Homo sapiens: one gene and its partners. The protein of the gene in region 1 purifies or fractionates together with the protein of each later gene. This does not show direct contact. Each region holds a gene or a part of one and is shown in the gene's direction. Other genes may lie near its edges.

Region 1 (4,078 bases):
AATACTTCAAGTCTGGCCACATCAGGCCTGGTGTGTCTCTGCCTGGCAACACCTGGCTGGGGCTGGGAGGGGCAGGCATCTCACATGGGCTGTGCTTCCCATTGCCTGCTTCCCGCTGGCCACAGTCTGCACCTGCCCAGTCTGCTCAGCACCCATCTACTGCCATTACTGATCACTGCTTTTATCTGTCACAGTGTCTGGGTGTCAAACTACTGTGGCAATGCCATGTCCTTTTTTTTTTTCCTTTTTTTTTTTGAGATGGAGTCTCGCTCTGTTGCCCAGACTGGAGTGCAGTGGCGCAATCTCAGCTCACTGCAACCTCTGCCTCCCAGGTTAAAGCGATTCTCCTGCCTCAGCCTCCTGAGTAGCTAGGATTGCAGGCATGCACCAACAAGCCTAGCTAATTTTTGTATTTTTAGTAGAGACGAGGTTTCACCATGTTGGCCAGGCTGGTCTTGAACTCCTGACCTCGCGATCCTCCCGCCTCGGCCTCCCAAAGTGCTGGGATTACAGGCGTGAGCCACTGTGCCCGGCCATGTCCTTTTTTTAATATGTAGATAATTAATATTCAGCTGAATTTTCCTCCTAAGAATAAAGGTGCCTAAAGGAAGGAAATAGTCTTAACTAAACCAGAGGTCCATTAATACTGTGAAGTGCTTTTAAAATGATATGTGGGTGTATGTATTTTTCTTGGAGTGGGTTTATAGTTTCAGATTCTAAAGTGGGGTTTGGAGTGTGGTTTCATGTGAAACACCACTGGTTTTACATGAAGAGTTTGTTTGACATTTTGTACATAGTCTTCTGTGAGCTCCAAACCAAGTGTTAGAATGTTTATCCTTTGTTGCAGGCATCCTAATATTCTTAGACTGTATGGTTATTTCCATGATGCTACCAGAGTCTACCTAATTCTGGAATATGCACCACTTGGAACAGTTTATAGAGAACTTCAGAAACTTTCAAAGTTTGATGAGCAGAGAACTGCTACTGTAAGTGTTCATTTATTGTCCAGGCTAATTGTGTTTCCTTTATACCTGTCCTCCATAGCAATGTACCTTTCATCATAGTAGAGTGGGTTTTGTCTTGACGTAAGGATAGCTTAATATCAAATATTTGAAGTGGAAAAATCAAAATAGCTTAGTTGTACCATATGTACAGATAAAGTCTAGAACCAGGTAGAATGTTGTATCTGCTTTTGTGCCTAGTTTGCACAGCTGTTTTCTATGGAAATGTATATAATGTATATAGATAGTCACCCTCATTTTCTTTAATAGATGTTTTATTTTAGAATAATTTTTATTTTATTTTATTTTTTTTAAAGGGACAGGGTCTTGTTATGTTGCCCAGGCTGGACTCAAGTGATTCTCCACCTCAGCCTCCCGAGTAGCTGGGACTACAGGTGCACACCATTGTACCTGGCTAGGATAGTTTTAGATTTACAGAAATTGTGAAGGCAGTACAGAGAGTTCCCATATACCCCACACTGAATTTCCTACTAATTCTCCTACTAACATCTTGCATTAATATGGCACATTTGTCACATTCAATGAACCAATATTGATATATAACTATTAACTCAAGTCCACATTTTATTCAGATTTTCTTAGTTTTTCTCATGATTAAATTGGGCTTATGGGTTTTTGAGAGGGAGATCAGAGGTAAAGTGCATTCTTATCACATACCAGGGATGTAAACTCTTATGACTTTTAACTGTGGATGTCAGCTTGATCTTCTGACTCAGAGAGTGTTTGTCTGGTTTCTCCACTGTAAAGTTACTATTTTTTCCCCTTTCCGTGCTGTATTTCTTCAAAGGAAGTTACTATGAATAGCCCACACTTAAGGAGTAGAGAGTGGATGGAGTATTGCCATAAATTATCTGGAATTCTGTGCCAGAGATAAGGCTGTTCTCCCTTATTTATTTAATCATTTATTTATTTAAAGATGTAGACTCCTGGGTATTTATTTTATCTCTTGAGCTATAATGCAATACTTTATTTTGTGGTTCAGATCATTGCAACTTTGGCCACTGGGAACTTTTTTTCTTTCTTTTTTTTTTTTTTTCTTTTTGAGACGGAGTCTCACTCTGTCGCCCAGGCTGGAGTGCAGTGGCGCTATCTTGGCTCACTGCAACCTCAGCCTCCCAGGTTGAAGCGATTCTTCTGCCTCAGCCTCCCAAGTAGCTGGAAGTACAGGCACCCACCACCACACCTGGCTAATTTTTGTATTTTTAGTAGAGACGGGGTTTCACCATATTGGCCAGGCTGGTCTTGAACTCCTGACCTTGTGATCCACCCACCTCAGCCTCCCAAAGTGCTGGGATTACAGGCATGAGCCACCGTGCCCGGCCTGCTCTTTTTGTTTTACCAGGTTCCTGGGAAAATCATTGCAGTTTTGTCTTGCGTGTGTGTGGTTTTTTTTTGGTTTGTTTTTACACTTCCTTTTTTTTTTTTTCTTTTTTTGAGATGGAATCTCACTCTGTCGCCCAGGCTGGAGTGCAGTGGCATAATCTTGGCTCACTGCAGCCTTCACCTCCTGGGTTCAAGCGATTCTCCTGCCTCAGCCTCCTGAGTAGCTAGGATTAACAGGCATGCACCACCACACCCGGCTCATTTTTGTATTTTTAGTAGAGATGGGGTTTTGCCATGTTGGCCAGGCTGGTCTCTAACCCCTGACCTCAGGTAATCTGCCCGCCTCAGCCTCCCAAAGTGCTAGGATTACAGGTGTGAGCCACCACGCCTGGCCTTGTACTTCCTTACTTTCTGATACAAGATGCTCAGGCCTCATCGTGTATATTTCCTGCTCCAGTCCTAGAATCGAACCACTTCTCCAAGGAGCCCTGTTTCCTTTTCTTGGAGAATGTTATTAGAAACCAAGCTCTGGGCACTTGGTGTACTCATTGCTACTATGGTGTCACTACTTTTAGGCTTTCAGCTGACACAGCAAGGGAATATATGTGGATAGTAATCTGTGTATAGATTTATCCATCTATCTCTTCATTAAGCATACCATGAATTCATACTGATGTCTTCAACTTGAATCCATTACCACGTTTCATTCTAACTTCCTCCTGTTTACCTGTAAACTCCCACTCCAAAAGTGTGAAACCTGGATTTCACCGCCCACCATCCTTTTACTTATTCAATTCCAATATACATGTATAATGGTATCAGAATTGTTAACCAGCTGCCACGTGGGAACCAACTTTATCAATTAGAGTGCTTATGTGCACTTCCTTTGGCCTTTGTCTTATAGATTCCACTCATTTCCAAAGCTGCTTGGATCAACACTTTACCCTCATGCCCTTTAGTAAGGTGGTTTCCTACATTTGTAATGCAATGAGATTTTTTTGTCACAATCTGCATGCCCAGGATGGAATCATTTACATTTTCATATCCTGAGATTGATTTTTGTGTGTTTGCTGTAAAGTTCTATGAATTTCGACAAATACACAATGCCATGTATCCACCATTATGATATAGAGAATAGTTTCGCTGCTCTTAAGAAAAAAAAAATCCTGTGTCTCAACTACTCATCCCTTCCAACCCTTCCATCTCTGGCAACCACTGATCTGTTTACTGTCTCTATTGCCTTTTCCAGAATATCATGTAATTGGAATCATAACAGTATGTAGCTTTTTTAGGTGGGCTTCTTCCACTTAGCAATATGCATTGAAGATTCATCTGTGTATTTTTGGAGGCATGAGAGCTTGTTCATTTCTGTTTATCACAAAATCATATTCCATTATTTCATTATATGGAAGTACCTCAGTTTATTCGTCTACTGAAGGGTATCTTGGCTGCTTCTGGTTTTTGGCAGTTATCATGTTTTGGCTGTCAACATTTGCATGCAGGTTTTTGCGAAACAAGTCTTCAAATTAGTTGGGCACATATATAGGAGTGCTATTGCCAGCTCATACGGTAAGACTATATTTTGCTTTGTGAGGAACTGTCAGTCTTCCAAAGTGATTTTTACATTATATTTTACATTGCATTACAAATGTAGGAAATCACCTTACTAAAGGGCATGAGGGTAAAGTGTTGATCCAAGCAGCTTTGGAGATGAGTGGAGTCTATAAGACAAA
Region 2 (4,078 bases), on another chromosome or scaffold:
AAATGCCTGCCCCCCCCTCCGCCATCACTTCATTCCCACCCTGGGATATCAGCCCCAGGAATTTAGATAAGCCCAGCAAAGTCAGCCCATTCCTGTGAGCAGCTGAACCCATCTTCCTGCCCTTTCAGGTGGGCAAGTTCCTGAGCGCTGAGGAGTATCAGCAGAAGATCATCCCTGTGGTGGTCAAGATGTTCTCATCCACTGACCGGGCCATGCGCATCCGCCTCCTGCAGCAGGTGAGGCCTCTGTACCAGACTCTGTGGTGGTCCACCCAGACCCCAACCTGGTGGCTGGGGAGGCACCTGCCCTGGCTGCACAGGGACCCCAGAAACCCCACCCCTGAACATACACACAACTGAGGGACCCAATGAGGCCAGGCTCTCAGAAAGTTGGCCACATACAGGGCTCCTTGGCAGTTTTGGGAATGGCCAGCTTGCCCAGGCTGCAGCGCTCTAATGCCCCCTCCTCTCCTGGCTCAGTCACTCTGGCCCTCTAGAGTGGGGATACAGTCTTTCTCCTGCAACCCCAGGGCAGCTGGGAGCATCAGACAAGATGGATGGGATCTAGGAAGTACCAGTGGCTCCCAGTGCCATTCCCTCTGTGACCACCAAACACACCAGTCCTCCTCGTGGCACTGTGGGCAGGTGGGGAGGAGCAGGGAAGGGGTGATACCCTCATTTATAGAAGAGGCTCAGGCTGGGCGCAGTGGCTCATGCCTGTAATCCCAGCACTTTGGGAGGGCCGAGGCAGGCAGATCACCTGAGGTCAGGAGTTTAAGACCAGCCTGGCCAACTTGGCGAAACCCCGTCTCTACTAAAAATACAAAAATTAGCCAGGTGCGGTGGTGGGTGCCTGTAATCCCAGCTGCTCAGGAGGCTGAGGCAGGAGAATTGCTTGAACCTGGGAGGCAGAGGTTTCAGTGAGCTGAGATTGCGCCACTGCACTCCAGCCTCGGTGACAGAGCAAGACTCTGTCTCAGAAAAAAAAAAAAAAAAAAAATAGAAGAGGCTCTGAGAGGGTGGCCAGATGAGCCGGACTATGAGCCAGGCCTTCCTAGCGCCCTCCTGGCCTTTCCTCACTCCTCCACCTGGGCCTGAGGCCAAACACCTGGGTGGTGGCTCAGGAGGTTGACCTGGCTGGCCAGTGCCTGCTGGGTGGAAAAGCTAAGCCAGGAGCGGTTCCATGGCTATGGGGATAGAGTGGGAAGGGCTGACCATGTTGACGCATCCCAACCTGGGCCACAGATGGAGCAGTTCATCCAGTACCTTGACGAGCCAACAGTCAACACCCAGATCTTCCCCCACGTCGTACATGGCTTCCTGGACACCAACCCTGCCATCCGGGAGCAGACGGTCAAGGTGGGTGTGGCCAGGCCCAGAGTGGCTACCCCTGGTTTTCCAAGGCTTGGAGGGGCTCACCCTAGACACAGAGGCCTTGGCTTTGGCCCATGGGTCCAAGCAGACACTGTCCTTGCTGTGTGGGTTCAGGCCGTGGGTGCAGCTCGGCAGCTGGCGGGGGAGCACGTCCTCCATTCAGCAGACAACGAGCATCTGCCTGTTCCTGGCCCAAGCCCCATGCTGGGAGGCAGCATGCATGAGGTGCCCAGCCCCCTGCACTCATGGAGCTTCCTTTCCAGGGCACAGAGGGTGGGCTTGCCAGACAATACAACAGAATTAGAAAATATGTATTGTTGGCTGGTCACGGTGGCTCACGCCCATAATCCCTGCACTTTGGGAGGCTGAGGCAAGCGGATCACCTGAGGTCAGGAGTTCGAGACCAGCCTGACCAACATGGCGAAGCCCTGTCTCTACTAAAAAGTACAAAACCATCTGGGGATGGTGGCGCATGCCTGTAATCCCAGCTACTCGGGAGGCTGAGGCAGGAGACTCAATTGAACCTGGGAGGCAGAGGTTGCAGTGAGCCGAGATCATGCCGTTGCACTCCAGCATGGGCAACAAGAGGGAAACTCTGTTTCAAAAAAAGAAAGAAAATATGCATTGTTGGAAAGTGTGGGGAGAAGAGTTTGTGGTTTTAAAAACAGTGGTCAGGGGCTGGGCGCAGTGGCTTACGCCTGTGATCCCAGCACTTTGGTAGGCCGAGGTGGGAGGATCGCTTGAGCCCAGGAGTTGGAGACCAGCCTGGTCATCATGGCCAAACCCCATCTCTACAAAAAAATACAAAAGTTAGGCGCGTATGGTGATGCACGCCTATAGTCCCAGCTACTCGGGAGGCTGAGGCAGGTAGGTAGCTTGAGCCCAGGAGGTTGAGGCTGCATTGAGCTGTGATCGTGACACTGCATTCCAGCCTGGGCAACAGAGTGAGACCTCATCTCAAAATTTAAGAAATTATTTTAGGCCGGGCCTGGTGGCCCATGCCTGTAATCCCAGCACTTTGGGAGGCCGAGGCGGGTGGATCACCTGAGGCGATGGGAGTTTGAGACCAGCCTGGCCAACATGGTAAAACATGGTAAAACCCCATCTCTACTAAAAATACAAAAAATGGCTGGGCCCGGTTGCTCACACCTGTAATCCCAGACTTTGGGAGGCTGAGGTGGGCGGATCACAAGGGCAGGAGATCAAGACCATCCTGGCTAACATGGTGAAACCCCGTCTCTACTAAAAGTACAAAAACAATCTAGCCGGGCATGGTGGTGGGCGCCTGTGGTCCCAGCTACTTGGGAGGCTGAGGCAGGAGAATGGTGTGAACCTCGGAGATGGAGCTTGCAGTGAGCCGATATCGCGCCACTGCACTCCAGCCTGGGCAACAGAGCAAGACTCCGTCTCAAAAAAATAAAATAAAATAAAAATTAAAAAAATTAGCCAGGCATGGTGGTGGGCGCCTGTAATCCTAGCCACTCAGGAGGCTGAGGCAGGAGAATTGCTTGAACCCAGGAGGCAGAGGTTGCAGTGAGTAGAGATCACACCACTGCACTCCAGCCTGGGTGACAGAGTGAGACTCTATCTCAGAAACAAAAAAGATACGGAGACGAGAGTGGCTCTGAGGCTTGTGGCCTGAGCAACTGGAAGGTTAGGAGTTGCTATTTACTGAGATGACACAAGCATGTTGGGCCCCATCTTGGCTGTTTCTGTTAGGCAGCTGGATGGAGATGTCGAGTTGGCCACTGGTTATGCATGTGTGAAATTTAGGGAAGTCTGGGCTAGGGGTATGTGCCTGGGGGTTGTCAGCTCACAAGATGGCATTGAAAGCCATGAAATGGCTGAGATCACCTAGGGCAAGAGTGTTAGATAGAAAAGAGCCCTCTAGATTGGCTCCGGGTGTGTGAACGTTAGAGTCTCAGCAAAAGGAGCAGCCAGCCAGGTCAGAGGAGAACCAGGAGGGGGTGGTGTCCTGGAAGACCAGAGACCAAAGTTTCAGGGAGGGAAAACTCAGGGGTGTCAGAACTGCTGAGGGTCAAGTTTGGTGAGGATGGAGAACTGGCTGTTGAAATTAGTACCGGGGAGGGCATCAGTGACCTCACCCTGAGCCAGTTTGGCAGAGTGTGGGGCTGTTTGTGTGAGTCTAGGTGGAGTGCCATCAGGAGAGCAGAGCAGAGGAAATGGGAAACAGGAGTGCAGACAGACTTTGGAGGTTTTGCTGTAAAGGGGGACAGAAATGGGGTCCCTTTCTTCAACATGCTGGACAGGGCCAGGCCCAGGCTGGGAGGTGGCCTTGCAGGCTTTGATGGGTGTGCTCTGGGATGAGGGCTGCCAGGAGGCTGTTCCTGCACAAGGCCCTTTGCCCGCCACAGCCCACAGTTCCCACTCATTTCTGCCCCACAGTCCATGCTGCTCCTGGCCCCAAAGCTGAACGAGGCCAACCTCAATGTGGAGCTGATGAAGCACTTTGCACGGCTACAGGCCAAGGATGAACAGGGCCCCATCCGCTGCAACACCACAGTCTGCCTGGGCAAAATCGGCTCCTACCTCAGTGCTAGCGTGAGTGTCCTGCACAACTGCTGGAGCCCGGTCCCTGTCGCAGGACCACAGCCTCCTCCAGGGCCAGGAGTCTTGTGTGTGGGGGCCTTCATTCTCCCAGAGACTTAGACCCTGCACGCTGTTGGCCCCATATCTGGGTTCCC
Region 3 (4,078 bases), on another chromosome or scaffold:
ATAGTCTCTCCCTGGCAATCCTATATAAAATGGCATAACCTGATCAGATTAATGTACTTGTTTGCAGTTTCTCTCAATAGAAGATAACTCCCTGAGGACAGGTCCTTCATCTGTTTTACATATCCCCATATTTTTAACATCTGGAGCAGTGCCCGAGTCATGGTAGGACCTCCATGAATGTTCACAGAATTCCATCTTGGGCTTCTGAGACTATTACAGTAGTGGTTCTCAAACCTTTCTCTAATTCTTGAATACACGTTTATTTGTCATGAGCTTCCCCCCACCATGGCAAACCAATTTCAGCTCAGTATATAATAGAATTCTGAAATGCAATGATCTTCCTGGAGAATGGGGGATTATAGTTTGTGAAAAGCCTCATAAGTGGTTTTGATAGTTCCCTTCTATTGACAATTTTTTATCAGGATTGTTTTTGAATAAGTAGTGAACTGAAGTCTGTACCTCCATCCTAGAGACTCGTGCAAAGAAGTCTTAATTCTTCTTTCTCATGAAAACTCATCAGTGGAGAACACTTGTCAGAGTGGTCTGCATGTCTTCTCACCACCTCCCCCATCCTTGTATCTTTTCACCTCTAGGAAAATATCCCTGGATCCTTTATCCATTCCTCTTGACCATCCTGGTTGCTCTCATGGGAACATTATCCAGTTTCTCTACCTATATCTCAAAGTGTGGTTGTTTATGTTAGGAGGAAGGAGAAGAGGGAGGGGGTCGAGGTCAAGAGGTGACCCATGACCACATGCCTGGGTCTGAAGTGGGGCGTATGAAGCTTCCTTGCTCAGGTCACAATGCTCATATCACCTTTAACATAACTTTGTTACTTGTGTGTACACTCTCTTTATTTCCTCAGGGCTTAGTTTCAGGAAGGGACTATTATCATCCTTGCTTTAAAATTAAACTATAAACAAAATTCCTTCCATAGTTAGCTTGGCCTACGTGCAGAGATAGGCAGAGGCCGTTAACCTACAAGATGTCACCATGGGCAGGGGGCAGGGTGCGGGGAGCAGAATGGAGCCACTCATGTTCAGCCTCCTTTTGTCTGTTATAATTTCCCCATTTTCAAAGCCAGTGATGTTGCATGTCTCTCACCTGTCTTCTGTATTCTCTCTGTCTCTCACCACAACCAGAAAAGGGTCTCTGCTTTTAAGGACCCATGTCATTAGACAGAGCCCACCTGGATAATCCAGGCTGAACTCTCCTACCTATGGGTCCTTAATCTAATCACACCTGCAAAGTTGCTTTGTTACATAAGGTAACATATTACAGGTTCCAGGGATTAGGATGTGGACGTCTTTGACTTGGAGGAGCAAGATTGATTTTAGACCCTCATCACTGGTGGGATTGGATTTCTGATGTAGCCCTTCCTTGTCCAGGACTGGGCAGGCAGGTGTGAATCTGTATAAGGAAGGCCTCAAGTTACTGTTCCTGGGCTCAACCAGCTACATAGCAGATTTGTACCACCCAGGTACACAGCCTGCATAGCAGATTTGCTGTCTACAGCCATTCTCACCTTTTCTCTTTTCAGGAGCATTTGCAATTATACGGTCATTGCTTTCTTTTTGGAGCCTCCCGTGCAGTTTTAATCTACTTTCAGAACTGGAGAGCACATCACATTTTGGTCAATAGCCTAGACATACAGTTGCATAACCCTTAACTTACCAGTGCTCATTATTTGCATTATTTCATTTTCTGTTCAAGTACTTTGAAAAGCCAAACAACTTTAAATACTACATAAAGTATGCATGCCTCTTAATATTGTTGGGATTCATCTCATTGTTATTTCTGTTACTCAAACCAGAAATCAGCTCCTCTTTCTAGATTGCAAACTAATAATAGTAGCAGAATAATTAATAGTACTATAGAGTAATAGCTACAGTTTGTTGATGCCGGCCAGGAGCCAGGCAGTGTTCCAGGTGTGTGATCTCATTAGATCCTTGCAGACATGATAGTGATGGAATTGTTACTTCCATTTTTTATAGGGCAACTGAACTCAGGTGATATTAAGCTGTTTGCTCAAGCTCATGCAGATCTAGGATTTAAACTCTAGTTTGTTTGACTCCAAAGTGCTCACTCTTCCCGAATGCAGATTCCAGTTGTTAATGTTAGATGAGATGGCACCTTAGTGCCGGTATAGATTCCACCACTGGTCATTCCAGAGGTGTGTTTTGAAGCAGAAGCCAATTAGTACTTTGCCTAAATGGGAATAAACTTGGGCCCAGCCTTTAGTACCATACGGCCCCTCCCCGTGGACTTAAGAAGCCTCTCTGTGTTTCAGCCACACACAGCACCTTGACTTGCATGAGCAGGGAGTTCCAGTGCGAGGACGGGGAGGCCTGCATTGTGCTCTCGGAGCGCTGCGACGGCTTCCTGGACTGCTCGGACGAGAGCGATGAAAAGGCCTGCAGTGGTGAGTGCCGGTCCACGGGCTGGGCTGGGCTGGGCTGGGCTGGGAGGCTCGCTTACCCCAGGGCCCCTCCTGTGTAGACCTTGAGCTAGGACCCTTTTGAACTGTTGCTCAATCTAAGGATAAAACAGATTTGTGCCTAGTTTTGGAGCCCCAAGTGAGGTGAGCCTTGGCCAGACTCTGATACAACATGCAGCTGTCTCCTCCCTGTTAGTGAAATGCTAGTCTTGGATTTTTTTTTTTTTATGGACTTCCCACCTCATGCCCATACACCATGGCTCTCACAGTCTCAATCTGCTGGTGGGATTAACTCAGTTCTTATCTCTGGAGTGTCTAGTAATGGACCCTATGACATGGTCCTTGGACTTGTAGCATTCTCTATGGAGAAATAGGCTTAAATTGTCATAGGCAGGAGGAAGATGAAATTCGAGGGAAAATATCACGACCGGAAAAGTAGGAGACCCTAGGAGGGATTGTATAGGGAGGTTTCAACTACATTTTCTGAGATTTCTTTTCAGATAATGATTATGGCCTCCTGATAATCTAGATCATGGTAGTTCTGTTTAAAAGCAGGAGTCCTTTGAAATCTAAGGATTTGTAAGATGTAACTTTTTTTTTTTTGTATTTTTAGTAGAGACGGGGTTTAGCCACATTGCCCAGGCCAGTCTCGAACTCCTGAGCTCAGGCAATTTGCCCGCCTCGGCCTCCCAAAGTGCTAGGATTACAGGCGTGAGCCACCACGCCCAGCCAAGATGTAACTTTGTTTGTCTTTTTCTCCTTTATCTCTCTAGATGAGTTGACTGTGTACAAAGTACAGAATCTTCAGTGGACAGCTGACTTCTCTGGGGATGTGACTTTGACCTGGATGAGGCCCAAAAAAATGCCCTCTGCTTCTTGTGTATATAATGTCTACTACAGGTAGGTCCCATCTTTGTCATGGGAGATGAAAATGATGTCTTCATTGCCCCAGGATGTTCTGTAAACTCTCTAGTGGCATGCACCATGCTATTAACGGAGTCAGACATCTCAGCCCCCCATGCTGCTCCAGTGTGACAATATCTTTATTTTTTTTTGGGCCAGGGTGGTTGGAGAGAGCATATGGAAGACTCTGGAGACCCACAGCAATAAGACAAACACTGTATTAAAAGTCTTGAAACCAGATACCACGTATCAGGTTAAAGTACAGGTTCAGTGTCTCAGCAAGGCACACAACACCAATGACTTTGTGACCCTGAGGACCCCAGAGGGATGTAAGTGTTTCAGTTAATTTTTATGGCATGGGTAAGACCTCAGGTCGGGGTTTGTGAGGGTCTTTCTGAGTATTCTCAGGAATGTGGGAACATATGTGTGCCTCACATGTACAGAAGTATGGTGGCTAAGCTTTATAGTCTTGCCAGAGTTGTCAAACATCTGTTCTTCTTACTGCATCAGAGACTGTTCTTGTACCTTAAGTTAATTTAAGATTCTCTCCACCATTGCCCTCTTGCATTTTTTGTCTAGTTTCTACCTCTACGTTCCTCCTCTAGATATTTCCTAGTACTTGGTACTTAGGAGGAGGTCATCGTCATTAAAATATGAGGCATATCAGCAATTTTGTGGCTAAGTTTTTTTCTTTTTGGAGACAAGGTCTCACTCTGACACCCACACTGGAGTGCAGTG
Region 4 (4,078 bases), on another chromosome or scaffold:
AGGTCTGCAGCCACCCCAGCTCATACCTCTCTGCCTCCCCGCTCTCAAGGAGGGTCTGCCGCATGTGATGAAAGTGTCTACTCTCAGGGAAAGCTCAGCCATGGCTTCCCCACTGCCCCGGGAGATGGAGGAGGAGCTGGTGCCTACTGGCTCTGAGCCAGGTACCAATGGGTGCAGGGTGGAGCCAGGTGGCTGGGAGGGGGGTGGGAAGGACAGAGGCTGCCCCCTCTTTCTGTCTTGGGGGGTGGTTGAGTGATGATTCTGTTGAGATAGGGAAGGAGTACCAAGGCAGTACAGGATGAGTTTGAAAGGTTCTCAGCTTCTCTTGAGACTCTTCAGAACTGTTTGGGATCATAAATCTCCAACAGGTGTAAGAGCAGACAGGGACCTTTGAGATGATATGGATCAAGCTGCATGCTTTGCAGAGGGGAAAACTGAGGCCCACAGGGAAAAATGGAGTGTACAAGTGGGAGTTTGAACCCAGACCTCCTGGCTCCTTGTGTAGACTCTTTTCTTCTATTTAGCCAAATGTGTAGGAGGTACGGGATTCCATCAGGAGGACTGTGGACGAGGGTACTTCCAAGGTCATTTAGCTTTATATAGAAGGTAGATTTCTGGTCCTGTTTTTTTTTTTCTTCCCATAGCAGATTTACTTTTGTTTGACTTGGGTCAATAGTAAGTTTGCATTCCCAGTCACACACCAGATGACAGTGGGGAGGTGGCCTGGGAGTGTGCTGTGGGTGGGGGAGGAGGCAGCCTGGAGGCAGGATAGAGAAGCTCAGCTGAGATTGAAAGTTTACTATGGATGATAGAGAAGAGTGTCACATAAGGTGAAAAAACTAGATTGGGAATATGGGGGGGCTGACTGCTTGATAGGGACAGGCAGGCATTTGTTTATTGGCTCATTTGTTCATTCATTCTTTTGTTTAATTATAACTTATGCTAGGGGCAAAATACAGTACAGGAAGAAGTAAGGTGCCAGGTGGGTCCTTAAATAGCTTCAGCTTAAAAGGGGAATTGGCTAAAACATTTTGGGAGTTTGAAGAAGGGAGAAGATGCTTTGGGGATGTGTGTAGAAAATCAAGGAAGGCTTCATGGAAGAGGTGGCATATGACTTGTGCCTAGAAAGATGTGAATATTCTTAAATCGGAGGGTGGGAGATGAGGTGGAACAGGAAACAAAGAAGTTCTGCTTCCTGGTTCTTCTGACAGCTCCCCCACCAACCCTTTCCTTTTGGTAGGTGACACTCGGGCCAAACCCCCTGTCAAGCCCAAACCCCGGGCCCTGCCTGCCAAGCCAGCCCTGCCTGCCAAACCCAGCCTGCTGGTGCCTGTTGGGCCTCGGCCTCCCCGGGGTCCCCTGGCTGAGTTGCCTTCTGCCAGGAAGATGAACATGCTGGCAGGACCCCAGCCCTATGGTGGCAGCAAGCGCCCCCTTCCCTTTGCACCAAGGCCTGCGGTTGAGGCCTCCACTGGAGGAGAAGCCACCCAAGAGACTGGGAAAGAGGAGGCTGGGAAAGAGGAGCCACCCCCTTTGACACCCCCAGCTCGATGTGCAGCCCCAGGGGGTGTACGGAAGGCCCCTGCCCCTTTCCGCCCAGCCTCAGAGCGCTTCGCGGCCACCACGGTGGAAGAGATCCTGGCCAAGATGGAGCAGCCTCGGAAGGAGGTCCTTGCCAGCCCCGACCGCCTGTGGGGTTCCCGCCTCACCTTTAACCACGATGGCAGCTCGCGATATGGCCCCAGGACCTATGGCACGACCACTGCTCCCAGGGATGAGGATGGCAGCACCCTCTTCAGGGGATGGTCCCAGGAGGGGCCAGTAAAGTCTCCAGCAGAGTGCCGGGAAGAGCACAGCAAGACCCCTGAGGAGAGGTGAAGGGTGGGAGGTTGTATATTTTGTGGCAGCCTGGAGGTCAGGTGGGGTGGGATTGGGTGGGGGCTGGGGACCAAGTGCATGGCCCCATATAGGGTTGTGACTTTTACCTGTAGGTTGGTTGTGTGCTGTGAGTACAGGCAGATCCCGATCTAGGTCACAAATCATTCCCCAGCAGATGGTGTTATCATTACTGTATGCTTTTAAAGTTGTAGTTTTCTTTACAGAGTTGATGCAGGTTTATGTTAGAGAGTTCAAATGTACAGTATAGAAGTTTAATAGACAATAGACTTTTTTTTTTTTTTTTTTTGAGATGGTGTTTTGCTCTTGTCACCCAGGCTGGAGTGCAGTGGTGCGATCTCGGCTCACTGCAACCTCTGCCTCCCAGGTTCAAGTGATTCTCCTTCCTCAGCCTCCTGAGTAGCTGGGATTACAGGCGTGGGCCACCACGCCCAGCTAATTTTTTTGTATTTTTAGTAGAGTTGGGGTTTCACCCTGTTGGCCAGGCTGGTCTTGAACTCCTGACCTCAGGTGATCTGCCTGCTTCGGCCTCCCAAAGTGCTGAGATTACAGGCATGAGCCACCACGCCCGGCCAAGAAGTTTAGTTTCTATATACTGAGAGCTGGGCACCAAACTTTGCCTCGTTGGCATCCTGTTTGTTCAAGGGAGTATTAGATCCATTGTAGAGATGAGGAAACTGAGGCTCAAAAATGACTCCATAGTCTCGGCAAGTTAAGAGGCAGAGACAGATGTTTGTTTGATTCCAAATCCTCTGCTCTTAAGTGCCAGCTCTTACAGTGGTCAGAGCAGTGTGCCAGTCCTGGGGTGGGGCTGCGTGTGTCAGGATGAGTAGGGCACAGTCTCTGCCTGTGAGGTGGAATCTGATGGGAGAGGTAAGAGAGGAACACATCTTTTTTTTTTTTTTTTTTTTTGAGACGGAGTCTCGCTCTGTCATCCAGGCTGGAGTGCAGTGGCGCAATCTCGGCTCACTGCAAGCTCCACCTCCTGGGTTCACGCCATTCTCCTGTCTCAGCCTCCCGAGTAGCTGGGACTACAGGCGCCTGCCACCACACCCGGATAATTTTTTTGTATTTTTAGTAGAGATGGGGTTTCACTGTGTTAGCCAGGATGGTCTCGATCTCCTGACCTCGTGATCTGCCTGCCTCGGCCTCCCAAAGTGCTGGGATTACAGGCGTGAGCCACTGCGCCCTGCGAGAGGAACACATCTTGATGCCAGGCCAGCTAGTGTCTGCACAGAGATTTTGGCTGGTTGGAGATATTTGCATATGATACGCTTCTCCAGAGTTGCCACTAGTGTAAAGCAAGGCTGGCCAGGAGGTGCTTCTTGGGGTGCTGGGCACGGGACTTTGGAGGAAGAGGCTGAGGCATCTCAGGAGCCATCAGCTGCACAGAGGCTGTCCTTAGTGCTGGGAGAGCCAGCTTGAGGTATGGCTGGCTCCTTGGGCCTTTAACAGCTCTGCTGGGCTCAGAGGCTCCCTTTCTCTTCCTACTGCTATGAAGGCAAGAGCTGGTGTGGTCTGGGCTAAGCGGGAAGCTGAGGGTCCCTGCCCTGCCCTGCCCTCTGGCCTTGCCCTTCTCTCACCTGAAAGTGTCTGGAGCCTTGGCCCCAGAGCTAGTCCTTTGCCTGTCCCAGACCAGGGTGCTGTGAGGTCACACTCTTGCCCAGGCTGGGTTCCACCCGCCATCTTCCTTCTCTCCCTCACTCCAAGTAGGGCTTAAGAACAACTTCAACCCTGGAAAATCACTCTTTCCTCTTCCCCTCCCCCACTGCAATTCTTCAAGAAGTATTGGCAGGGCAGCAGGACCAGCTGCACTCTTCCTGGCTAGAGGAGAACTTTAACTCCTTATGGGTTAAAGGAAAGAGGAGTTATCTTTTTAGGAGCTGTTGAGAGGTCTGGGCATCCAGGATGCTTTTCCTAAAGTAGCTGGGGAATTTAACCCTTCATGCTCAGGTAGGGAATAAGCACTGTTTTCTGGGGCACTTGCCGAATGGAAAATGGACAGATTCTGTGTCCCTAATAGTTGCAGGCAGGGCTCAAGAGTAAATGGCTAGGAGGGTTTAACCTTTGGGTGCTGTTAAAGTTGCACTGGGAGACTCTCCCACATTTTCCATTCTGTGACAGACTCTAACATTCCGTGCTTCCATTTCCTGTCCTCGTCCCTCACAGGAGCCTTCCTTCC
Region 5 (4,078 bases), on another chromosome or scaffold:
TCTGGGACACAGGCTGCCGTGGCCCTGGAATGTAAGAGACGGCAGTGGGGGGCGAGTGCGTCAGACCTATGTCCCCCTCTCTGTCCTCATCTGGAAGAAGCTACATGGGAGGTGAGAGATGGCAGCTGTCCTCGTTCAGCCACCTCTGTCCCCCAGGGGAGTATCTAGGTGGCCAGAACCACCTCTGGGCTTCAGCCCATGCTGGTTAAGTCTGGGCTCCCTTGGGGAGTGTCTGAATGTGCCCCTCACAGTCTCACGTTTGTGTGGTGGACGATATGCACACGCCTGCCCATCCTGGGTGGAATCCTCATGTGCTTGAGAGTCTAACACACTTCCAATAATTCATGAGAAAGACAGAATCATAAAGGAACTTCTCACATACTTAGAACTGAAGAATCATAAAAATACTACTTAGCAAAATGTGTAGAATGTAGTTAAAGTTGATTGTATACAGGGAAATGTAGCCTTTAAAGACAGACTGGAAAGAAAGGCTGCAATTAATGAGTTGAGCTTCCAACTGAAGGACAAAAGAAGCCAGGCCTGGTGACTTATGCCTGTCATCCCAGCACTTTGGGAGGCGGAGGCGGGCAGATCACCTGAGGTTGGAAGTTCAAGACCAGCCTGACCAACATGGCAAAATCCCGTCTCTACTAAAAATACAAAAATTAGCTGGGCATGGTGGTGGGCACCTGTAATCCCAGCTACCAGGGAGGCTGAGGCAGGAGAATCACTTGAACCCAGGAGGCAGGGGTTGCAGTGAGCCGAGATCGTGCCACTGCACTCTAGCCTGGGAGACAAAGCAAGACTCCGTCTCAAAAAAAAAAAAAAAAAAGAATAAACCCGCAGAAAGTAGAAAGGTGATGATTCAGATTGAAGCAGAGACCAACAGACACCCACAGGCAGGAGGCAGAAGTGCTCAGTGGCTATTTGAAGAAGCTCCGTAATAGAGAGATGACCCTCAGGAAAACGCTTAAAACTCCTTCCTAGCTACCCAGAGACTGGACTTGTGAGGAGTTAGGACGCCACCTTTAGGAAGGGTTTCCCTCAGCTTTGTGGTGTAGCCGGCAGGAGAAAACCGATCTAAGAACTGTCTTCTGTCCTCTGTTTACCCAGGACTTGTTCTTTAAGTACACCTGGAATAACTTTTTGCACTTCCAAGTGGAACTATGCATAGCCGCTATTCTCTCCCACGCTGCCCGTGAGGAGAGGACAGAAGCCAGCGGATCCGAGAGCAGGGTGGAGCCTCCGCATGAGAACGGGAACCGGAGCCTGGAGACTCCCCAGCCGGCCGCCAGCCTCCCTGACAACACAATGGTGACCCACGTGAGTCCAAGAAGCATCCATCTTATCAGCGCCAACTGCGCCCCACTCAGACCGTGTCCATGTCAGCGCTGACGTGTGCCGGACCTCACTGTGCAGCTGACACGGGGGCAGGGCTTTGAAAAGGGTCCCCAGGTGTCTGGTCAGACGCTCGTAGACAGTGGGGCTTGAGTGGGTCTTGCAGATCTCATTCCTACCTGCCTTCAGCAGGGGTACTGGTGCCTTCCACGTGCAGGCCTGGCAAGGGTTAGCACTGGATGAGATGAGTTCAGTCTGGCCTCCAGCTGGAGGCCCAGGGAATAAATGCCCAGGGAGCCAGCAGTGTCAGTGATGGGAGCCACACGGTGGGGAGGGGATGCTGAGGGACATGCAGGCCAACCAGGGACTGTCACCCGGATAGCAAGGCCACAGGTATATCGTAGTGTGAGGTGGAGCCCAGGAAAAACATCTCAGGTACAAGAAGTGATCTGTGTCAGGGCCTGGAGGTGAGAGAAAGTGCTGAGGGCAGACAGCCCTAGTCGTTCTTCCGGACACAGAGAAAGAGGGCAGGAGAGTGGCCAAAGTGGAGGGCAATGGAGAGACGGGGAGAAGGCCCAGGGGAAGACAGGGGTCAGGGGGCAATTCCAGGAGTTGGAGGAGAAGGGAGAGGGTCCTTTTCTCGGGCTTCATCTTTAGGGCGCTCAGCAGTATGAGCCCCGAACCGCACCCTCCTCTGGTGTTTGGTGAGGACCGCGGAGGCTGGGGCTGTGCGTGCGCAGCAGTCAGGGCCTGCAAAGTCCACACAGACGTGGCCGCCAGCCAGCCCTGCCCAGTCCAGGGATGGGTGGAGGGGTGCGTGCCGCCTTCAGACCCTGACTCACGCTGTCCCCCTGCCCCGCCCCCCAGCTGTTCCAGAAGTGCTGCCTGGTGCAGAGGATCCTGGAGGCCTGGGAAGCCAACGACCACACGCAGTAAGAGCCGCTCGGACGTGGAGGGACCCAGCCTGGCCAGTCAGGGATGCAGAGACGCACCTCACCCAAGCCCTGGTGACGCTGCGTGCAGGACTGCAGGATCGGGTGGAGTGTAGGGTGTGCGACGTGGCTCCACGTTCTGGGGCTGCTGTGCAAGGGGCCCTTCTACTGGGCGGACAGCTGCAAATGCTACTTGGGGAGGGGACACAGGGAGCCGACAGGAAGCGGTCCCGTCCCCACCAGGCACCTGCTCTGGCCCCCGCCCAGCCTGGCTTTGCCCTCTTGTGGGTCCGCTGTCCGTTCCTGATCTTCCCCAGGAACTCGGGCCCTCCGTCAGCACTCGCACACAGGGACGCGTTATTTTGGTCTTTCCATCTTCTGCTTAATGGGTGCTCCCTCTGGTCAGGACACATGTCCCGCTTATTGTCGTGGGCCCAGAGCCATCCCCACCCGTTTGCTGTCCTGCTGGGAACTGTCTGGCTCTGGGCGATATGAGGAGGGACTCCAGGGAGCTGGGAGGGGTCTGAGTGCAGCTGTGGGGAAGCAGAGGCCGAGCTGGGCTGTACAGCATGGAGGTCCCGCCCAACCCTCCCCTTGGGGTGCTGAGCCTGAGCTTGGTAGCTGGCAGCATGGGCTCACCTCCTGCGCCACTGCTGCCACCAGCGGGACTTAGGCCACGCCACGGCCTTTCTGCCTCCATTTCCCTGTCTGTAAAATGGAGTGAGAGCAGTGTCTGTTTCCTCATCTGTCTCAGTGGCACTTTTGGTAGTGAGGTTGGGGTGAGCCTGCTGCACGTGGCAGGTGCTACTCAAACAGAAGTGTCCTGGAGGAGGGCAGGGGGCGCGGACACTGGGCAGGGGCCGGGCATTTGCTCTGGAGGTGAACCTGGAGGAGGGCAGGGGGCGCGGACGCTGGGCAGGGGCCGGGCATTTGCTCTGGAGGTGAACCTGGAGGAGGGCCGGGGGCATGGATGCTGGGCAGGGGCCGGGCACTTGCCCTGGAGGTGAACCTGGAGGAGGGCTGGGGGCGCGGACGCTGGGCAGGGGCCGGGCATTTGCTCTGGAGGTGAACCTGGAGGAGGGCTGGGGGCATGGATGCTGGGCAGGGGCCGGGCACTTGCCCTGGAGGTGAACCTGGAGGAGGGCTGGGGGTGCGGACGCTGGGCAGGGGCCGGGCATTTGCTCTGGAGGTGAACCTGGAGGAGGGCTGGGGGCGCGGACGCTGGGCAGGGGCCGGGCATTTGCTCTGGAGGTGAACCTGGAGGAGGGCCGGGGGCATGGATGCTGGGCAGGGGCCGGGCATTTGCTCTGGAGGTGAACCTGGAGGAGGGCCGGGGGCATGGATGCTGGGCAGGGGCCGGGCATTTGCTCTGGAGGTGAACCTGGAGGAGGGCCGGGGGCGCGGACGCTGGGCAGGGGCCAGGCATTTGCCCTGGAGGTGAACCTGGAGGAGGGCCGGGGGCATGGATGCTGGGCAGGGGCCGGGCATTTGCCCTGGAGGTGAACCTGGAGGAGGGCCGGGGGCATGGATGCTGGGCAGGGGCCGGGCATTTGCTCTGGAGGTGAACCTGGAGGAGGGCCGGGGGCGCAGACGCTGGGCAGGGGCCGGGCATTTGCTCTGGAGGTGAACCTGGAGGAGGGCCGGGGGCATGGATGCTGGGCAGGGGCCGGGCATTTGCTCTGGAGGTGAACCTGGAGGAGGGCCGGGGGCGCGGACGCTGGGCAGGGGCCGGGCATTTGCCCTGGAGGTGAACCTGGAGGAGGGCCGGGGGCATGGATGCTGGGCAGGGGCCGGGCATTTGCTCTGGA
Region 6 (4,078 bases), on another chromosome or scaffold:
GCTGGGAAGGAATTGAGGGACCCAGCAGGTGTTCCTTCTTGGTTTTTTTTTGTTTTTGTTTTTGAGGCAGAGTCTTGCTCTGTTGCCCATGCTAGAGTGCAGTGGCACCATTTTAGCTCACTGCAACCTCCACCTCCTGGGTTCAAGTGATTCTCCTGCCTCAGCCTCCCAAGTAGCTGGAATTACAGGCGCCTGCCACCATGCCTAGCTAATTTTTTGTATTTTTAGTAGAGACGAGGTTTCGCCATGTTGGCCAGGCTGGTCTCGAACTCCTGACCTCAGGTGATATTGCCCACCTCAGCCTCCCAAAGTGCTGGGATTACAGGCGTGAGCCACCGTGCCCGGCCACCAGCAGGTATTTCTTAGAAGCTGGGCTCTCCCAAGCCTGGCCTCCAGGTCAGCAGAGGGCTTTCTTCTGGCTCTCCCTAGAGCCGGTGTGGGATGACTAAGGTGCTGATGTGGCACATAAACTCCCTCATTCACCCGTATTCCCTGAGCACCTAACTGGGCTGGATGGTGCTGGGATCATGGCAGTGGCCAGGATAGCCCCAGGCCCTCCTTCATGGAGCTCACAGTCCAGTAGAATGGACACGGCCACCTCACAGCCACAGACAGTGACAGAGTGGTCAGAGATGGGGGAGCCCAGGGGCCCTGTGGAGACACCTGACCCCACCTGCGGATCAAGCAGGACTTCCTGGAGGAAGAGACACCTTAGCCTGGGGAGGATGTGGAGGAGCGAGCCAGGGGGAGGCAGAGAGTGAGTGTGCAGAGGGCAAAGCAGTGCAAAGAGGCTCTGCACCCCTTCCCAGTTCTTTCTCATGCGGTGCCAAGCACTGAGCTTGCAGTGTGTGGGGGAGATGAACATTAACTCAGTGGATACCCCAGGACAACCTCAGCTTGAGATGGGGTTTCAGTTTCAGTCTAGGCATCAGATGGGGACAAGAGGTAGCAGGGGGCTTCCAGGGGAGGGGAGGACAGCAAGAGCCAGAGAATGAGGTGGTGGGGTAGGCGGGGCCCTGTTGGCCGCAACATGCCCCTACTTCCCCAGAGTCTACAACACTGTGAACGGGAAGCAGAAGAAGTGCTACAAGGGCTCCCAGGGTGACGAAGGGTCCTTGCTGAAGGTGAGGAGTTGGAGACCCCTGTCTGTCTGCTGCCCTGATGGGCCACCTATTGTGACGGCCCACACCTGAGACCTGTGCCCTTGGTCCTTCCTCAGTGCACCGCGCTGCCCAGCACCTTCTCAGGCCTGGTTAAACAAGGATGCTTGCGAGAGGGTGGGGAGGGTGACCCCAGCTGTGTTTCCTTTATTTACAGAGCCCTTCCCCAAGTGGGGCGTCTAAGTGGGTTCCATTTTGAGTGGCAGCAGGGTATGGTGGGAAGAATCAGAGGCATGAACTCCCCTCCTGGTTTGCCCACACCAGCCACGGGTCACTCAGGACAAGGGGGGACCTTCTCAGAGCCTCTGGTCTAGGACAGTTATGGGTTCAGGTTCTGCCTCAGGCTGACTGTGTGACCTTGGGCAAGCATCATCTCTTGAAATGCACACAGACAGCTTGTCTCATAGACTTGTTCTCTGGAGGAGTTCAGTTTGCACATGTTCAGTGCTTAGCACAGGGCCTGGCTACTGTTGTTACTGCTGCGGTGGTTGTTAATTTCTTCACGTGTCGAATGGGAGCGGGAGCTCCTGCCCTGCCAGAGTCCCATGTGCTGTGCATGCAGCACGGGGGAGGGAGGGGCCCAGGCCTCATCATAAGGAAGAAGCAGGCAGCTGGAGTGACATGTGGGTCCCTTTCCTGGCAGGTCCATGTGGACCCCTCAGGCACCTTCCTGGCCACCAGCTGCTCTGACAAAAGCATCTCAGTGATTGACTTTTACTCGGGCGAGTGCATTGCCAAGATGTTTGGCCATTCAGGTGGGTGTGCCTCTCTGCTTGGGATGCCTCCCCACCCGCCCACACCCTCTGACTCCGAAGGCAAGTGCAGCCTCTCTGCTTTGTTTGCAGAAATTATTACCAGCATGAAGTTCACCTATGACTGTCATCACTTGATCACAGTATCTGGAGACAGGTGGGACATGGACCTTTGGGAGAGTTGTGGCTCAGATACCATGAGCACTGCACTCAGCCTGCCTGTGTAGAGAGCATTTCTAAACTGCCCAGTTTGGATTGTGGGAGTCTTGGTGTCACACCCAGCCCTGAGTTCAAATACCAGCTCTAAGCTGGGCATGATGGCTCACGCCTGTAACCCCAGCACTTTGGGACGCTGAGGCGGGTGGATCACTTGAGCTCAGGAGTTCGAGACCAGCCTGGGCAACATAGCAAAACCCTATCTCTACAAAAAATTAGCCGGGTGTGGTCATGTACACCTCTAGTCCCAGCTACTCAGGAGGGGGAAGATGGCTTGAACCTGGTAGGTAGAGGTTGCAGGGAGCACAGATCATGCCAGTGCATTCCAGCCTTGGTGACAGAGCAAGACCCCGTCTCAAAAAAAAAACAAAACACTAAAAAAACATATCCCAGCTCTGCCATTTATTTTCTTGTCACCTTGAGCAGGTTATTTCCCCTGAGCCTCAGTTTGCTCCCCTGTAAAAGACACCACCGTTTACATTTACCTTAAAAATGGTGTGATGAGGCCGGGCGCAGTGGCTCACGCCTGTGATCCCAGCACTTTGGGAGGCCTAGGTGGATGGATCATCTGAGGTCAGGAGTTCAAGACCAGCCTGGTCAACATGGAGAAACTGTGTCTCTACTAAAAATACAAAAATTAGCTGTGCGTGGTGGCAGGCGCCTGTAGTCCCAGCTACTTGGGAGGCTGAGGCATGAGAATGACCTGAACCTGGGAGGTAGAAGTTGCAGTGAGCTGAGATCGCGTCACTGCACCCTAGCCTGGGTGACAGAGCAAGACTCTCTCAAAAAAAAAAAAAAAAGAAAATTGTATGGTGAGAAATGAATGAGATGATATACATACATTCTTTAGCACATGGGTGGTACTCAAGGAAGTCCCTTTTGTCACTCCCTTTGATTTACCCCAGTTCTTCCCCACAGCCCCCTTCCTCAGGTCTTGAGGCCTCCAGAACAGGCCCTGGTTTGCTGGGATGCCCCAGACCTGGGCCCAGGGTGTGGATGTGGCAAGTCCAGCACCCCTGCACTAAGCGGATAGGGGTGTGTTTTCCAGGAGCATCTGGAGAATGGGGTCCAGGCTGTGGTGTGGGTGGCTTCAGGGTCAGCCACGGCAGCGGCTCCCATGCTTACTCTTCCTCTGCCTTGTGTGTCTCTCTTTGACCTCCGCAGCTGCGTGTTCATCTGGCACCTGGGCCCGGAGATCACCAACTGCATGAAGCAGCACTTGCTGGAGATTGACCACCGGCAGCAGCAGCAGCACACAAATGACAAGAAGCGGAGTGGCCACCCCAGGTCCTGGCAGCCCCTGCCTGTCCACCAGAGGGATGAGTCCCTGCCAGGGCCCCATGGAGTGATGCTGGGGACACAGTGGTGGCCAAGACAGCCCTAGGCCCTGCCCTTAGCACACTCACAGCTGAGTAGGGGAGACAGACTTTGAATATGCAGTTACAGTAATAGATACAAAAAGGTTTTGTGGATTTTTTTAATTTTCGTAAATAATAGAGACAGAGTCTTGCTGTGTTGCCCAGGCTTGTCTTGAACTCCTGGGCCCAAGTGATCCTCCCACCTTGGCCTCACAAAGTGCTGGGATCACAGGTGTGAGCCACTGCACCCGGCTATGAGAAGGGTATTAAAGTGGAAAAGCAAAGTGTTTGGCGAGCCTCTCAGCACTGTGATGGGGGATGCCCCAAGCGGCTGTGGGAACAGAGCAGTCCCTGACCGGCCAGCCAAGGGGAGGGGTGGGTAGACAGGGGATCTGAGGGGAGGGCTGCAGTGGGGCCACGTGTCCTCTTACTCCCACGTGAAAGCTGTAGCTTCACTTACTTCTTTGAATCTTCTAAATATATTTCTTTCAAGTCTTTATGTAGCAAAGCCAATTTTATTTGCAGAGAACTCATGTTCTGGTTTTTGATTTGAGGTTTTGGTTTGGGTATTGCTCATTTTGAGTGGGAGGTT
Region 7 (3,500 bases), on another chromosome or scaffold:
ATTTTTCTTAATGTTTCTGATGGCACTTTGGTTATTGGAATTCATTAGAAATACTGTTCAGATTTTTATTTAGTAAGTTACTTTTATTGAAATATAGGCCCTTGCATTATATTGAAAAGATACACTGTGGTTTTGGCTGGTTGCATTGCCATTCTCCCTACCTTGCTCTGGCCCTTCAGCAAATGGGCTTAAGTGGAAACCTTTGCATGCTAAAACGCCTCTTAATAGACGAGAGTATCAAAGTTGACTTGAATGATATAGAAAAGGATTTCATGTGGCTGTTTTTTCTTAAAAGGCTTGAAGTGCTCTTGAAAAACATTTTATGAGACAGAACCCCACTCTTTTGTAGATGAAGCATCTGAAACCCAGAGGCACTAAAAGGCTTTGCCCAGGATCACACAGTTTGTGATAAAAGTCAGCCCTTTGTGATTTTTGTGCTCTGCCACTTTTGGCTTATGGTGGCACCTTTCTAAAGATACAGAAGGTTTTTTTCAATAAAAAAAAAATATTGTCTGATTTTTTAAAAATCGCAGTTTGGCCCTCTTTTTCTTAAGGACCAATCAAAAACATCTTCATGTTGCCTTGGAAAGTCTAAGATTGTTAGCAGGAAATGTTCCTTGAGGTCTGCCGCTACAGTTGCTTTTGGTGTTCCTTATTCTTGAAAAGGTGTTTCTTTCTTAATTAAAAAAATGAAAAGATAAATAGTTAGAGATATGGCTTGGCTTACTGCTATTTCTTTTCAGACAAATGTAGTGTTTATATCTTGAGTCTAGTTTAAAATATTTGTAGTATTTAAAAAATGCTTGAAGGTTGCAACTTTTTTTTGTCAGAACACTGGAAAGTTGTTACAATCAACATTGATGCACACCCTTCGTCTTCCCCCTTCACAAGTTTTTTGGTTTTTTAAAAACTTGCATAACAGAAATTTGGCATCTTTCTAGGATTGCAAAGAAGTTACATCATTACTGAAATCTAGCCCATTATTAAGGTTGTCACTCACAAATAAGCTTTTGCCAAAGAAATTGGAATTAGCAAAGATCTTTTGACAGAAATTGGATTGTTGTGTTTCATGTTAGTCTAAATTTTCTTCCATTTTTGTCAGTTATGCTATAATCTGTTCCCCTGATTACCGTAGTTCAGAGTGGAGGGAAAAAACGTAACTTCTCAAATTCATAGCTTAGTGCAGTGATCACTTTTATTTTTTAAGGAAAGCAGTGTAGTTTTTTTGTGGCAAGTATACTTTGAAGTGGAAATAGGGACAAAAAGCTTTATTATAAAATCCTATTGTACATTTTAAAAAATGATTTTATCTGTTTTTATATTATATTCTTAATTGCAAAGGTAATGCTTTTCTACATCTGGAATTTCGTTTTATTAGTTTGAAAATCTTTTTGAAAATCAAATTACCACATTTTCAAATTTTGTCAGCAAAATTGAAGATCTGTGTGATCAGCATATGAGTGCTTTCATTGTGTGTCCTACCAGAGTTAGACGACTTAGTTGAAGTTTTGCATTGTGGACATTAATTTTAACTTTATATCCATGTTCAAAGTCCTTAACTTAAAGCTTCATACTGGATAAAGGTCATTTTATAACTTAGAAAACGAACATTCAAAGAACATGTTTTACTTTGTTTATATGATTAAATAACTTATTTTATGTTAATTGAAAACAAATGGCCATGATTTTAAAGTTGCCTTTTAGTATTTGTGGTTGTCATTTGAAATTATCCATAACCCTTGCTTTTATTGAGTTTCAAACCCTTTTAAAAACAGCAGCTATGTTTCCCCTCCTTCCCCATTCCCCCTCGTTTCAGACAAAAGACTGCATGCTGGCGAATGGCAAACTGGATGAGGATTACGAGGAGGAGGATGAGGAGGAGGAGAGCCTGATGTGGAGGGCTCCGAAGGAAGAGGCTGACTATGAAGATGATTTCCTGGAGTATGATCAGGAACATATCAGATTTATAGATAATATGTTAATGGGGTCAGGAGCTTTTGTAAAGAAAATCTCTCTTTCTCCTTTTTCAACCACTGATTCTGCATATGAATGGAAAATGCCCAAAAAATCCTCCTTAGGTAGTATGCCATTTTCATCAGATTTTGAGGATTTTGACTACAGCTCTTGGGATGCAATGTGCTATCTGGATCCTAGCAAAGCTGTTGAAGAAGATGACTTTGTGGTGGGGTTCTGGAATCCATCAGAAGAAAACTGTGGTGTTGACACGGGAAAGCAGTCCATTTCTTACGACTTGCACACTGAGCAGTGTATTGCTGACAAAAGCATAGCGGACTGTGTGGAAGCCCTGCTGGGCTGCTATTTAACCAGCTGTGGGGAGAGGGCTGCTCAGCTTTTCCTCTGTTCACTGGGGCTGAAGGTGCTCCCGGTAATTAAAAGGACTGATCGGGAAAAGGCCCTGTGCCCTACTCGGGAGAATTTCAACAGCCAACAAAAGAACCTTTCAGTGAGCTGTGCTGCTGCTTCTGTGGCCAGTTCACGCTCTTCTGTATTGAAAGACTCGGAATATGGTTGTTTGAAGATTCCACCAAGATGTATGTTTGATCATCCAGATGCAGATAAAACACTGAATCACCTTATATCGGGGTTTGAAAATTTTGAAAAGAAAATCAACTACAGATTCAAGAATAAGGCTTACCTTCTCCAGGCTTTTACACATGCCTCCTACCACTACAATACTATCACTGGTAAGGAGCCCACGACCAGACTTCATTTCTGGGAAAATGAGACTTTGTGTTGATCTCATCGTGTTGGCCTTGTAAAAGTGATCTATGCATGTACAGTGTTCATGCTTAATATTCAAGGGATGGGGCGGGGAACAAAAGGAATAGAAAGAATTCTTTTCCTTGTTATTTGGGGAGCACGTATTGCTTTATAACTTTGGTTGTTGGGAGTATGGCTATCATATACCCTCATCAGTGTCATTTTATATCTGCCTAATTAGAGAAATTTTAACCTTAGTATTTTGATGTGTTTTCCCCATTTTATCCTCCGCAAATATCTTTCTCTTGCCCATTCAGTGCTGCTTTTGGTTTTTGATTTAGTTGTATATTCTGGATGTATTTCCACAGCCTTTTATTGTTCTTCCTGGACAAAAAGACCCCTCCTTTAGGGTCTTTTTAAAGATGGATAGATTAAAAGATTAAAAGCAATGATTTCACAAGAAGGTTGCGTGGCCCTTGCTGTGACTCTGCTGTCATCTTCTACTTCTCACTGTGCTCTGTATTTGCCCCTCTTTTAATAGACTGTCAACCCATTAGATTAGAAGGGAGAACAAGCCCCTCACACCCAAATCAGCTTCAGGCTGTGAAACACAGCTGAAGTTTACATTTCAATTTCTGTATCAGAAAAATAAGTGCCTGAATTCAGAACACCAAAGCAAAGTATAAAGTTTGTAGTTTATATAATAAAAGCAGCGTAGGTTAAGGTGATCAGCAAAATGTAAAAACCAAAAAGTGAAAAACTATCTGACTCTGGACTGG

What was found.
Region 2: the proteins of AURKA (region 1) and SCYL1 purify together in Homo sapiens (affinity purification with mass spectrometry; 4 studies listed by BioGRID and IntAct, with this or other methods). This does not show direct contact.
Region 3: the proteins of AURKA (region 1) and SORL1 purify together in Homo sapiens (affinity purification with mass spectrometry; 4 studies listed by BioGRID and IntAct, with this or other methods). This does not show direct contact.
Region 4: the proteins of AURKA (region 1) and TNKS1BP1 purify together in Homo sapiens (affinity purification with mass spectrometry; 4 studies listed by BioGRID and IntAct, with this or other methods). This does not show direct contact.
Region 5: the proteins of AURKA (region 1) and PPP6R2 purify together in Homo sapiens (affinity purification with mass spectrometry; 6 studies listed by BioGRID and IntAct, with this or other methods). This does not show direct contact.
Region 6: the proteins of AURKA (region 1) and WDR62 purify together in Homo sapiens (affinity purification with mass spectrometry; 5 studies listed by BioGRID and IntAct, with this or other methods). This does not show direct contact.
Region 7: the proteins of AURKA (region 1) and DICER1 purify together in Homo sapiens (affinity purification with mass spectrometry; 6 studies listed by BioGRID and IntAct, with this or other methods). This does not show direct contact.

The regions. Positions count from the first base shown.
Region 1 is NC_000020.11:56,378,341-56,382,418, reverse strand, and holds part of AURKA (aurora kinase A), read left to right. Parts: intron 1-847; coding exon 848-986; intron 987-4,078. UniProt on the Homo sapiens protein: Mitotic serine/threonine kinase that contributes to the regulation of cell cycle progression.
Region 2 is NC_000011.10:65,531,448-65,535,525, forward strand, and holds part of SCYL1 (N-terminal kinase-like protein), read left to right. Parts: intron 1-128; coding exon 129-236; intron 237-1,244; coding exon 1,245-1,358; intron 1,359-3,779; coding exon 3,780-3,935; intron 3,936-4,078. UniProt on the Homo sapiens protein: Regulates COPI-mediated retrograde protein traffic at the interface between the Golgi apparatus and the endoplasmic reticulum. Involved in the maintenance of the Golgi apparatus morphology.
Region 3 is NC_000011.10:121,601,903-121,605,980, forward strand, and holds part of SORL1 (sortilin-related receptor preproprotein), read left to right. Parts: intron 1-2,290; coding exon 2,291-2,422; intron 2,423-3,210; coding exon 3,211-3,337; intron 3,338-3,499; coding exon 3,500-3,669; intron 3,670-4,078. UniProt on the Homo sapiens protein: Sorting receptor that directs several proteins to their correct location within the cell. Along with AP-1 complex, involved Golgi apparatus - endosome sorting.
Region 4 is NC_000011.10:57,317,875-57,321,952, reverse strand, and holds part of TNKS1BP1 (182 kDa tankyrase-1-binding protein), read left to right. Parts: intron 1-2; 5' UTR 3-67; coding exon 68-161; intron 162-1,240; coding exon 1,241-1,874; intron 1,875-4,065; coding exon 4,066-4,078.
Region 5 is NC_000022.11:50,430,060-50,434,137, forward strand, and holds part of PPP6R2 (serine/threonine-protein phosphatase 6 regulatory subunit 2), read left to right. Parts: intron 1-1,113; coding exon 1,114-1,323; intron 1,324-2,205; coding exon 2,206-2,270; intron 2,271-4,078. UniProt on the Homo sapiens protein: Regulatory subunit of protein phosphatase 6 (PP6). May function as a scaffolding PP6 subunit. Involved in the PP6-mediated dephosphorylation of NFKBIE opposing its degradation in response to TNF-alpha.
Region 6 is NC_000019.10:36,089,397-36,093,474, forward strand, and holds part of WDR62 (WD repeat-containing protein 62), read left to right. Parts: intron 1-1,048; coding exon 1,049-1,124; intron 1,125-1,803; coding exon 1,804-1,915; intron 1,916-2,005; coding exon 2,006-2,069; intron 2,070-3,292; coding exon 3,293-3,415; intron 3,416-4,078. UniProt on the Homo sapiens protein: Required for cerebral cortical development. Plays a role in neuronal proliferation and migration.
Region 7 is NC_000014.9:95,095,030-95,098,529, reverse strand, and holds part of DICER1 (endoribonuclease Dicer), read left to right. Parts: intron 1-1,816; coding exon 1,817-2,705; coding exon of another isoform or gene 2,706-2,758; exon of another isoform or gene 2,759-3,184; intron 3,185-3,500. UniProt on the Homo sapiens protein: Double-stranded RNA (dsRNA) endoribonuclease playing a central role in short dsRNA-mediated post-transcriptional gene silencing.